Homo sapiens: one gene and its partner. The protein of the gene in region 2 purifies or fractionates together with the protein of the main gene of each other region. This does not show direct contact. Each region holds a gene or a part of one and is shown on either strand. Other genes may lie near its edges.

Region 1 (8,505 bases), on a different chromosome or scaffold from region 2:
TCAGCACTACAATGAAAAACAAAGTATTTTTAGTCACTTCTCTATTGGAAATCTGAATGCATCACTTACAACTTTTAAATTTCGAAGCACAAACAAGAAACAAAATAAAGAAATAGCCCCACAAAAAATTCTACGCATGTAACATCACATATACCCCGTAAGTATGTAACACATTATGTATCAATTAAAATATTATGTATCAATTAAAAAAATCACATACTATGACTATAAACTACTTTTCAAATAAATAATTACTGTTAAAAAAGAAGCAAAAACAGGAGCACCTAATCTGAGTTTATTACCTTGCTTTCCCCCATAATAGCAAGTGCATGAACTCATCTTGCACTGATGTGGTTGTGTTCTTTTCCTGGAAAAAAGTGAAAAAAAAATTGTGATATATGTATTTCTTAAATTATAAGCATATTTATTCAAAATTATAGGAGCATGACTCCCTTTCCTTGCCTTAGACTTCCATCAAATCCATAAAGTGATCATCTGAACATCAGTGACTAGAAGATAGCCAATCAGCTGTTCTAACACCTGCCCTTATTGCCAAAGCCCCACCAGCTCCACTTCACAATCCTGTCCCCACTTAAGTTGTATCAATGGGAAAAGAGCCCTTTTGGCAAATCTGAGGAAGCAGTTTGAAGTCAGACGAAGCCATTTGAAAGAAATTATGATCTTAGCCTTTTATGAATCAAACTGATTTTTCTCATGTACCTCAAGGTAAAGACATACATCATGCATTCTTTAACTCTCTCCATGGGAAACTTCAGCTGCTTTACCTGCACAAACTTGGTGAGACGAGAATCCATCTGCATTAGTATTTCTTCCCATGCTTCACACATACATGTTAGTGACAAATTTATATACTATTAGCAAAAAAGAAAAATTGAAATGGTAAAAAATATTTAAACCAACTTGCTATCTAAATAATATGTGCTTATGATCAAGTGTCTCAAAGAAATCTAGAATTTACTTTCAATCACTGTTTTATTTTTATTATTTATTTATCGAGACAGAGTCTTGCTCTGTCGTCCAGGCTGGAGTGCAGTGACGCCATCTTGGCTCACTGCAACCTCTGCCTCCCAGGTTCAAGCGATTCTCCTGCCTCAGCCTCCCAAGTAGCTGGTATTATATGCGTGCGTCACCATGCCCAGCTAATTTTTGTATTTTTAGTAGAGACGGGGCTTTACCATGTTGGCCAGGCTGGTCTCGAACTCCAAGCCTCAAGTGATCCACCTGCCTCAGCCTCCCAAAGTGCTGGGATTATAGGTGTGCGCCACTGTGCCCAGCCTCAATCACTCTTTTAACTCAGTTAAGATGGAGAAAAAGACAACAGCTTGGTCATCACTTAACTACGAAACATTCCATTGATTCTTAGAATTTCATAATAAAACATTCTTAAATTTTTATCTGGTGAAACAAATATCTCCAAGCTTTTTATATAAGATATGTCTTATCTACACTAACTGTCAAAATACTGGTTTGGTCAATTATTCAATTTTAAAAAGATACTGATCTCTAGAAACCTTTAATATCAAATAAATTAATGACTGTGGTAGAATGAAAAACATGGCCACAATCTTTTGTAGCCCCTCCAGTCAGATGCAGAGTCCATTTCTTCAGCCCTTGAGTCTCGCTTTGACTAACGGAATGCAGCAGAAATAACACTGTTGACTCCAGGGCCTCAAAAGTCTTTGTACACTTCCACTTGCACCCTCGATGCCCCGTTACCACCACCATGTGGACAAGCCTGTGCTGGCTCGCTGGAGTATGAAGGATGTGGAGTAGAGACAAGGAATCACAGCCAAGGGACACATACCAGCTGGCATGACCAAGTCTAGTCAAGATCAGCTGAACCTTCTCCAGGTCACCCAAACATCTTGGCTAAGCTGAGCCTAAATCACCAACCTACAGAATTGGGAGGTAATTTGGGGTGGGTTTATTATGAACAAATGTAAACTCATGTGAAGACTGTTTTTCCCACAATACTTTATAATGTAAATGGTATTTTATTTATGGGAGTATTTTAAAAGATTTAAACTCTTTTGGAGGTGGAAAATAGGGTGCGGTGAAAGTAGGTTCTCAATTAAATGTCCTTTTCCTGCTTTAATGGACCTTATAAGATCATCTATCAGACTAGATACCTCTACTTCAGAAAGCTTTACAAAACAAAATTTTGAAGCTTTTTATTTACAGAACTTTAGAAGCCGATAATAAATATTCACATAAAACAAGCTCTAAATAAATACCTGTAACAGAGCTGAAATATGAGTAAACTTTCTGGCCATCCGAGTTACTTCAGGTAAGAAAGAGTACAACAGATTAGTTTCAAGCTGTAAAATCAAAAGAGTAAAGTGAGTCATCATCAGATGCACTTGCTGCAAAGTCTGTAATTTAGAGTGTGGGTCAAACTACGTATCAGAAAGACTATGTCAGAATTGTGCCCTCTTTGAGCAGAACGGTTTGGAAACAGCACATAGCCTTAGGATCTCCTAACCTACACATAACCATACACAAATCACTCTCTCTGGGTTATCAACCCCTCCTGTGTAGATAGAATAAATGTAATATAACCTATTTTGAAACAGTATTACAAAGAAATGTTTAAATCACAAATATATGTAAAAACTTAAAGGAAGTATAAGGAATTAAAGGCTACTGATAAATATTGGGAAAATATCTATCAATGGTATATGAATTGTATCTTAATAAATTTGTCATTAAAAATGATCTGTTACCAACTTCACAGTAGTAGTGAATCATTTTATTATAATCCAAATGCAATCCTGGTGATCATAGTTTCACATAACCTTAAGAAGATGAGCAAATATGAACAACCATTACCATAGTGAACAGTAAACCAAGAGTTCTCTGATGCTCTGAATACAAAGAGAATGTTGGAAGACATCACACACATTGCATCTTGCATCTTTTTTGTTCTACTTTTGTTTGAGAGTTCACACATACTTAAGTGGCTGGGATATTTAAGATGAAAATTTTCGATTTCTTGGCAAGGCTATGATCTAAATACTCTATGGGAGCCCAGTTAGCTTCCTTAATCTACAATGCAGACAGCACGCAATAAAGCATTTTCCCAATATTAAGTGATCATTTTACACAAGATGCAATGTGCTAGTTAAGAGCACAGATTATGCAGCCAGATTGTCTAGCATCACTTTCCCATCCTGTGACATCAAGCAAGTTCTGAAGTATTTGTGTGTCCATGTACTTACCTATAAAATGGGGATAATAACAGTATCTGCCTATTATGATGCTGTGAAGATTCAAATCAACTGTTCTGAAGCATTCAGCATATGGCACATATTAAACAATCAATAAATATTAACCTTTGTTATTATCAGGGACAGAGTCCTAAGCAAACACTTGGTACAAAGTCAAACTGGAATAGCAACAAATTAATATGGTCATTAATAGACCACCAAAACACTTTTTATGAAAACTGTATTGGAGCATGGGAAGAATAATATGGTATTCACTATAATAACACTCAGTATATTAGGATGTAGAAATTCCAAGTCGATTTTTTTGCATTATTTTAATGATCATTACAATACAGTGAGATGTGGATAAAAACCTATATAAAACCTGTTAAATACATATTTACTCTCTACCGTTATCAAGTTCCAATACTCACCTGAAAGTATGAAACTTCTGAAGCACCATTGGTAGAGACTTCTGTGACCACTGATAATGATTTCAAATCACTTGATAAACATAATGCAAGACAAGTACCAGCAATCTGTAAAAGAGTCAAACCCCTTAGTATATTTAGTATCACTGCTAGGTTGAAGCTGATTATCATGCAGAAAGCAAAAACTCAGAGCTTTAAAAAGCAGAAACAAATTCCCAGCTCCAGCCACACACATGTAGCAGATGAAGGTAGGTGTCTGCCTGCATGGACCTTTCTAGTTACAAGGCCACAAAAATAACCTGGTTCCCTCACCCCTACCCAAGTCTCAAATCAAGTGCTGCAGAACCAACATATTCCACAGAGCCTACAATATTTTCTACCCCTTTTGCGAGTGTAAGAGTCTGATGAAAAAGCTATGGAGAAGACTGAGACGTAGCAACTATAGTACAGTCAGTACTGGACTTAAGAATGCTTCTGAAGATTTACATTCCAATCACAAATTGAAGCTCTTTTACATCTCACACTAGAAAAACATCAAATCATAATCAAGTGTATCATACTAATCTTTCTGTTAAAGAAAAAGAAAAAAAAACTTGACTAATTCCACAAATAGCTCCCAATCTTTATAGACATATCACAATTATTTTATCTTAGTAAGGAAATTAGTCTCTGAACATTTAAGAATAATTCCAAAAATCGAAACTGAAAAAAAACCTAGTGTTTTATTCTTTTTCCATAAGTACCTAGTATATTCTAAGAGAAATAATTTAGGAAGAGAAAATGTTAAAGAAATCTTACCCCTGTGACTCGAGCAATTTTAAACATTCCATAAGCATAAAGCTCAATAAATCCAGAGCTTCCTCCAAGGACGAGAATATTAAGCCTAATTAAAAACAATGCAACAAGCTGAGAACCAATCAACAACACAGATGATTGCATTGTTAAAGCGAGATATAAATTATTACTGCTTTCATATAATCTACATGCTAAAGCTCCCCTGCAGAGGGAAGTGAGACATCAAATCCACTAACACTCAATATTCAGTCACATCAGGCTCATTCCTTTTTTCAAAGAACACAAATTTCCTCTAGCCTAAAAAAAAATCAGCTTACAGTAAAATAAGAATACATTATTTTAATAACAACTATATTTATACACTCTCAATAACAAAACAATCCTTTTACCAACTAATACAAAGTGCCATCAGTTTTATCATGGTTATGATGCTAAATATATTAAATGGGCTTAAAAAACATGAATACTTAAAATTTTAGAAACTCTAGTACTTATATCCTTTAACTTATTAAAATAAACATATGTACATCATATTATTATTAAAACTTCATAAAACGAAAGGCCACACAATAAAAACAATAATAGATATTAAGGTCTATATATTGTTTGAAGGTATTAATGTCAACGATAAGGCCAGGTGCGGTGGCTCATGCCTGTAATCCCAACACTTTGGGAGGCCAAGGCGGGTGGATCATCTGAGGTTGGGAGTCTGAGACCAGCCTGGCCAACATGGTGAAACCCCGTCTCTACTAAAAATACAAAAATTAGGCCAGGCGCGGTGGCTCACGCCTGTAATCCCAGCGCTTTTGGAGGCTAAGGCGGGTGGATCACGAGGTCAAGAGATCGAGACCATCCTGGCCAACATGGTGAAACCCCGTCCCTACTAAAAATAAAAAAATTAGACAGGCCTGGTGGCGGGTGCCTGTAGTCCCAGCTACTCGGGAGGCTGAGGCAGAAGAATCACTTGAACCAGGAAGGCGGAGGTTGCAGTGAGCCGAGATAACGCCACTGTACTCCAGCCTGGCAACAGAGCGAGACTCCGTCTCAAAAAAAAAAAAAAAAAATTAGCTGGGTGTGGTGGCGCGTGCCTGTAGTCCCAGCTACTCGGAGGAGGCTGAGACAGGAGAATCGCTTGTGCCCAGGAAGTAGAGGTTGTAGTGAGCCAATATCACGACACTGCACTCCAGCCTGGGTGACAGAGACTCCATCTCAAAAAGAAAACAAAAACAAAAAACAATGAAATAAAATGGCAAATAAAGGATTTGCTCTTAAAGCTTCTGAAAACTGCCTCAAATATGAAATAACTTTAAGAAATTAGACTTATTTATCTGTAAGATTTACCTGACGTCTCCCAAGAGCTTAATAATTTCATCAGAATTTTCTTCACTAAAATATAGAAGTAAATTGGGTCATCTTTCAATTCTGTCTTCCAAATAATAGCAGATTATCTTACTTGAAAACAAGAAAAGGCGTATCTTACCTAAATATTTTTGAGGTGTTGCTATAGCTAGAAGGAAACAGAGATTAAGGTAAAAAATACTCTTAGTAAAAATACATATTTTAAAACGCATGAGAAAATTGTCACAGTGTTAAAAGCAGAAGAAAGAGAAATCTGCAAGATTAATTTCAAAGAAACCAGTGATACATACTTTTTTGGCAGTGTAGGTAGTTTAGGTAAGAGAAGATTTGATTCATCCTCAGCATTATAAAATGATGTGAGAACACTAAAAAGGAAAAAATAAAAGCATTATAAAAACACCAAAGATTTTACTTCTCTTGCCATTAAAAATGCTAATTTTTAAAAAAGATACCCAGTTTTACAACATTATCAAGTAAATAGATGACACAAATACTATACAGTTGTAGTCAGTTTAACAGTCCCAAATAGGAAATTGAAAAGTAGGAATTTCTGTTATTTTAGGGGAAAAAAAACATCAGCCTGCACACGTTACATTTAGAGAAATGATATTAATAAACACTTTTCTTAGCATATGAAATGCATTCATATGTACTCAGATACTGAGAATTTATGATTTCTTAACTCTCATTTAAGAACTCACACCAAACATATGACTACTAAGAGTAGCACTATCTTTTATTTATGAGACAGGGTCTCACCCAGGCCGGAGTGCAGTGGTGTGATCATGGTTCACTGCAGCCTTCACCTTCTGAGCTAAAGCCATCATCCTGCCCCAGCCTCCTGAGTAGCTGGGACTACAGGTGCAAGCCACCACACCCAGCTAATATATACATTTTTTTTTTTAGAGATGGGGGTCTCACTATGTTGCCCAGACTGGTCTGAAACTCCTTCCTCCTGCCTCAGCCTCCCAAAGTGCTAGGATTATAGGCATGAACCACTATGCATGGCCTACTATGTGATTTAGTTATTGGTTCTATGACTTATACACACTTGTGGATTTGATAATCCAACAGGTATTTGAGACTACACCATGCCTTTTGAAATAGTCTTATTTACCCCCTTTTCCTTCTCAATTCTAACTCCAAATAAGGTTGGAAATAAATGAGTAAGCAAGTAAAAAAGTGGTGATTTAGCAAGTATTTTTTCCTACTTTAATAAAAAGGAGCTGTCTTGAGAGACCCTGGAATCGCCACATAACACTTCTAAACTGTTAGTAGAAAGTATGTTGGGAATACACACAGCAGATAACCGGGCTGGAATAGGAATTACATGATATGCTCTGACCCTCTAACATTCTACATATTCACATAACGATTTGTAATCCTTCATTATCTGATGATGGATTTATCACTCTGGTTTATCTACAGTGAATTTCAAACCCCAGGTCAAACCCTTGTCATCCAATTCTTTCAGGCTTCCCTTAGGAAAGCTGGCAATTAATATTCAGGATTTACAAATTCATTTGATATTACCTTAGTATAACTTAATTAGAAAGGAAAAGTTAATGGTAAGAAAATTAGCATATTTCCCCAAAAAAGAAAAACAATTTTTGTTTTCAGTATTAGCCAAACCCACTGATTCCTCCGGCCTTCTTCACTACAACCCTGGTGTATTACTTGACTACACACACTAATGCAGAATTATTTTTATGAAACAAGGAAATTATCAGGACCATGGACAAAGAAAAAACCTGTCCAGCATTAGACAGAATGCTCAACTTAGCATTTTTCATACTCTAAGAATACTTACTGAGACACAAAAAAAAGTTCCAGATGATATAAATCATGAAATGGAAATTAATATATGTATTAATTAATAAAACTTTAAAATTACTGATTGGCAAATTGAGGTTGTTTTCCATTTCACCATTTATCTCGTCTAGAGCTTTGTTTTTTGTGCCTCAGTAACTATTTTTGGAGTATGAAATGACTAGAAAGAGGAGAAAACTCTTAGCTATTCAGGTTTACTGCTTCAACAAGAAAATACAGGCATATCTCCTTCAATTGTGCTTCCCTTCATCCTGCTTCCCAGATACTGCATTTTTCACAAATCAAGTTTGTGGCAACCCTGTGTCAAGCAAGTCTATCAGCCAAGCAAGTCTATTGGAGTCCTTTTTCCAGCAGCCATGTGCTCACGTTGTACTTCTGTGTCACATTTTGAAATATTTGCAATACTGCAATTTTTTTCATTATTATATTATTTGTTATGGTGATTTGAGGTCAGTAATCTTTGATGTTACTATTATAATTGTTTAGGGGTGCCACAAACCATGGCCATATAAAATGGTGAGCTTCGGCTGGGTATGGTGGCTCACGTCTATAATCCCAGAGCTTTGGGAGGCCGAGGAGGGCAAATCACTTGAGAGGAGTTCGAGACCAGCCTGGCCAACATGGTGAAATCCCGTCTCCACTAAAAATATAAAAATTAGCTGGGCATGGTGGCACACACCTGTAATTCCAGTTTCTCGGGAGGCTGAGGCAGGAGAATCACTTGAACCCTGCAGGCAGAGGCTACAGTGAGCTGAAATTGTACCACTGCACTCTGGCCTGGGTGACAGAATGATAACTGTGTCTCAAAAAATAAATAAATAAGGCCAGGCGCTGAGGCTTATGCCTGTAATCCCAGCACTTTG
Region 2 (4,690 bases):
TGAGCTAGCGACTGCACTCCAGCCTGGGCAACCAAGTGAGCCCTCATCTCTAAAAAAAAAAAAAAAGAACTGTGTGTCAGGCCTCTGAGCCCAAGCTAAGCCATCATATCCCCTGTGACCTGCACGTACACATCCAGATGGCCAGTTCCTGCTTTAACTGATGACATTCTACCACAAAAGAAGTGAAAATGGCCTGTTCTTGCCTTAAGTGATGACATTATCTTGTGAAATTCCTTCTCCTGGCTCGTCCTGGCTCAAAAGCTCCCCTACTGAGCACCTTGTGACCCCCACACCTGCCCGCCAGAGAACAACCCCCCTTTGACTGTAATTTTCCTTTACCTACCCAAATCTTATAAAATGGCCTCACCCTTATCTCCCTTTGCTGACTCTCTTTTCGGACTCAGCCCGCCTGCACCCAGATGATTAAAAGCTTTATTGCTCACACAAAGCCTGTTTGGTGGTCTCTTCACACCGACGCGCATGAAACTGCGCTTGCTTTGAAAAATGTATTTGTCTGATGGTGAACTTTGTTATTTTCTCAAACACATTGTATGAGATATGTAAGTATACATATTGGACTATTGTGAGATAATAATGGCATTATCTTATCAATAATTATTGTATTATCTTTTTTCCTCCCGGGCTTTGCCTGGAAGAAAAAATTAGTTTACCAAGGATCAGGAAGATTGATGGAGTTGGGGCTCTGTGAGTGTGGGGCCCTGTGATTCCTTGCACTAATTCCAGGAGATGGGTCTCCTAACAGCATGATCATGTGGATGTCCTGTGAGCCCTGGCGGGGCTGTACAGAGAGAACAAACTGCCGAGCACAGTGCAGCTGCCTTATCAGATGGGGCACACAGGCTTGCACAGTGAGCATCTCGGCAGCAGCCTTGGTAGACTGCAGACCAGAGACTCGTCCCCCACTTTCCAGAGTTGCTAAATTCCAATGTTTTGAGAAACACAAGAGAAAGGGTTGGTGGGGGTCCTGGAAAAATGATTTAGTGAGTAGGGGTTAAGCCGTATGTTGTTTCAGTTAGAAAAATGAAAAGTTAAAGGCGAAAGATTTGCACGATCTGAAGAGAAACCAGAATGACGAGTTAATGGCACATGTTTACATACGTAACAAACCTGCATGCTGTGCACATGTACCCTAAAACTTAAAGTATAATAATAATAATAAGAAAAATGAAAAGTTACATTTCTTATATCTGAGCATTGTCTCATTAATATGAAGTAGTCATAAGCACCTTGTGTTTTGGGGATTTACCTTACAAAACACTCACAATATCTTTCCTCATTATCTGGTCACCAAATTAATTTATTCATCATTCATATATCCATTCATCCGATATTGGAGAATCTGCTACAGTCATAGTGTAGAGGTGTACAATGGTGACTAAGATGTAGTTCCACGTTCTTACAATTCTTACTAGTGACGTGGATAGGAGATAAGGAACCGCAGTGAAAAGGATATTGACTGGGCACAAAAAGTTTGGGGTTTTAATCCTATTTTTGTCCTTCAACTGCTGGGCAACTTTGGGCCAACTACACAACCTTTCTTGGCTTCCCTTTCTTCATTTGTAAAATTGGACTAAATTATCTTTAATTTCTTACTAACTTCTAAAATACTTTACTGAAGAAAAGAGACATACACATCTGATGTAAATGCAAGTATGTGTGTGTGTGTGTGTGTGTGTGTGTTTAATGGGGGCATAGCTGGCTCCTTTATTAGGCTTTGGTTTTTCTTCATGTATCTGATTTCCAGAAATGAGAGTGAAAATACATTTTATTTTGCTCCCACGTGTTTACTAATCTAAGATTTCATGCTGTGAGGAATTAAATAAAAAATGTTTTTGAGCCTTGGCTGAAGGAGAAGAAAGACAATGATTATGATGTCAAAATTATGTCAAAAGCAGATGGTTCTACTGTCCCTGAGTCTAGGATTGATGCGGAAACCCAAAGGTAAATGAGAGCCTTGGAGAAAAAGAGACTTACAAGGATATTATGCACTTGGGGTAATAGGTTTATTATCTCTATATACAAGTAAGCATTTATTGATGTTTGTCAAAAATAAGAGACAAGATAACAAAAACTATTTTAGCATGAAAACGAGATAGCTGCAATAGACTAATACTGAGCTTAAAGACTCCAAAAAGAGCACAGAACCTGAAATGACAGTTTTCAGGTTGTATAGTTATCCAGACAATGAAGTCAACTATACAAGGCAAGCAACACATGACAATAAAACACCATCAACAGTTTCCCACTGGAGGATGGAGGGAGGCTTGCTGGGGCCTGGGGCCACTAGTGGGAAAAGATATTAAAATCTCATAAATCCTCCGTATCTTTTTTCCATTTCAGGAACTTCTTTGGAGTAACTTTCGCCTTCTTCGTCGGAGGGCAGAGCCTCGGCAAAGCGCTTCAGGAAACCTCCATACCGTTTCTGGTAGTCCATCCACCACTCTGGGCGACCTACTCTTCTCATGAAGCCCCCATATCGCTTCTGCAGCTCTTTGGCTTCATCTTCCAGTTGGGGGCTTCTCTTTAAGCCTCTCATGAAGCCCCCATATCTCTTGCTCACTTCTTCCTCATTATCACTGCCATCCTGGTGGTGGCTACGCTCTCGGTTGTCCCCTGTTTCCAGAAGCTCTTTTAGCAGGTCTGAGGAATTGGCCAGCGAGTCGTCCTCCTCTGCATCCTTCTTCATGAAGCCCCCATACCGCTTGGCGAGGATCTCACTTCCATTGGCCTCTTCTTCTGGCTCCATGGGATAAAGCTCATCCATTTTCTTCATGAAGCCTCCATACCTTTTCATGAAGCCCCCATACCTTTTGGCTAGCAAATGGCTTTCTTCCGGTTTGCTATTTTCTCTGAGGGTGCTGGTGCCATCTTGAGGAAGCTCTGGTTTGGACAGCTGCAGGAGCTCCTTGCAGGTTTCCCAAATTTTCAGAGAAGGCAGTTTACCTTCACATTCCATTACGCAAGCCTGGGAAAACAATTTGATGTAATGATAAAAAGAAGCTTCTGTGATTTCATTAAGCAAATGAACTTTTGTGGACCAAAATATGCTTGCTTTGACATCATAACTTCCTTATTATAATAAGGTCATCTCCAATTTCTTATCACGACTTTTCATAAGGCTGAGCATGCAAATGAAACAAATAAAATTTGGAAAGGTGAAAGTGGAGGGGTTCACTGAATCCAGTTAGGAATCTGCCTTTGGATTTTAAACCCATAGAAATTTTAAAGAATTTAAAAAAAAATTTTCCATGCAGTTTTAACTTAGATTGACTGCTTTCACAATCTAATTTCACTGGATAATTTTCCACTTCTGATATAATTTTGTTTGAGATTTTTCTAACCAAAAAGGAGAAATTTTTATTTACCTAATCAGGGATATTTCCTCAAAATTCCTTTTATCTTCTTGTCTTAGAGATAAAATCAATATTAATAACCTAAGGGTCATTTGCTTTCTTGTGTTAATATTTTACCTAAAATGGTATCGAGTATTCCTGCAAATACTTTCAATCTTCAAAGAAAAACAACAATTTAAAAAAAGTTTATAAACACATCCTAAAAACTCAATTTAAATCTGATGAATTATTTGCATTCTTATTAATTTGTTAATTTGTTGTAAGTACAGATCTTTTGTTTTTTTCCTTTTTTCTTTGCTGGATACAACAGACTTTATTATTTTGAACAAAATGTCTATAATGATGAGATCAGATATAAAATTATACAAATGCAAGTGCACAAATTATTCATGTTTATTTTCTTCACATTTAGTCACTGTTGTACAGAAAAAGTATTTTTCAATGGAAATCATGGTGTTTGGTAAAATAGGAATCATCAGCATACATTCTTTCCTTTTTCTTATATAAATATTAAATATAAAATCATTGTAAGTCTATACATTCGAATGATCTTAAGTTTTTTTCTATTTAACACATCACTTGGGTATGATAAAGAGAGTACTAATATGTGAACATTTACAAAACATGCATGATATTTCTTAGCATTTCAGGAGTTTTTTACAGCCCTCTGAAGTCTTTCTTGGTATTATTAAAAATATACTGGTATATTAAGTGATGTTAAATACACATATATTATTTTCACAATGAAAGAAAGCATTTTATTAGTGCAACAAAATCTTGAAGGCACGTATTTAGTAAGCTCTTAATGAGTATTTAAGCTTCGTGTCTGAGAAGATTAAATATATAACTACGTAAGAATCTAAAGATGATCCATTAATAATTAAAATGTCTTATTTTATTCCTGACATATGATGAACAAATAAAAACACCATTAGAAGCTTAAGATATTTAAGGAGCAATAATATTTCCATTCTAAAGTTGTATCTAAGTGATCTTGTTGTTAAAAATTAATGTTGAATGTTTTGCATACTAATACCAAAAGATTTTTAAATGTATGTGATGTGAGATTCCTTCAAAACCAAATAGTAACAAATATCAGAATAATGCACTCGTACTAAGGTAGCGATGTTAACTGATGGCTCCTATAACCATGTATGCATGTTTTGTGGTATTTACCACACTTTGTGTGGTATGGTCAAGATCACATTAGATGGGAAATTCTATCTGGACATCAGCCATAGCACGCCTGCTCATCTCTGCATCCACCACAGTACCAATCATAAGTGTCTTTCTCATGGTAGAAGCTCAGTAAATAT

Evidence for each region.
Region 1: the proteins of PENK (region 2) and ANAPC4 purify together in Homo sapiens (affinity purification with mass spectrometry; 3 studies listed by BioGRID and IntAct, with this or other methods). This does not show direct contact.

What each region holds. Positions count from the first base shown.
Region 1 is NC_000004.12:25,386,172-25,394,676, reverse strand, and holds part of ANAPC4 (anaphase-promoting complex subunit 4), read right to left. Parts: intron 6,178-8,505; coding exon 6,103-6,177; intron 5,961-6,102; coding exon 5,934-5,960; intron 5,840-5,933; coding exon 5,795-5,839; intron 4,542-5,794; coding exon 4,457-4,541; intron 3,767-4,456; coding exon 3,662-3,766; intron 2,340-3,661; coding exon 2,256-2,339; intron 873-2,255; coding exon 786-872; intron 368-785; coding exon 303-367; intron 7-302; coding exon 1-6. UniProt on the Homo sapiens protein: Component of the anaphase promoting complex/cyclosome (APC/C), a cell cycle-regulated E3 ubiquitin ligase that controls progression through mitosis and the G1 phase of the cell cycle.
Region 2 is NC_000008.11:56,438,952-56,443,641, forward strand, and holds the end of PENK (proenkephalin-A preproprotein), read right to left. Parts: intron 2,987-4,690; coding exon 2,321-2,986; 3' UTR 2,006-2,320; downstream 1-2,005.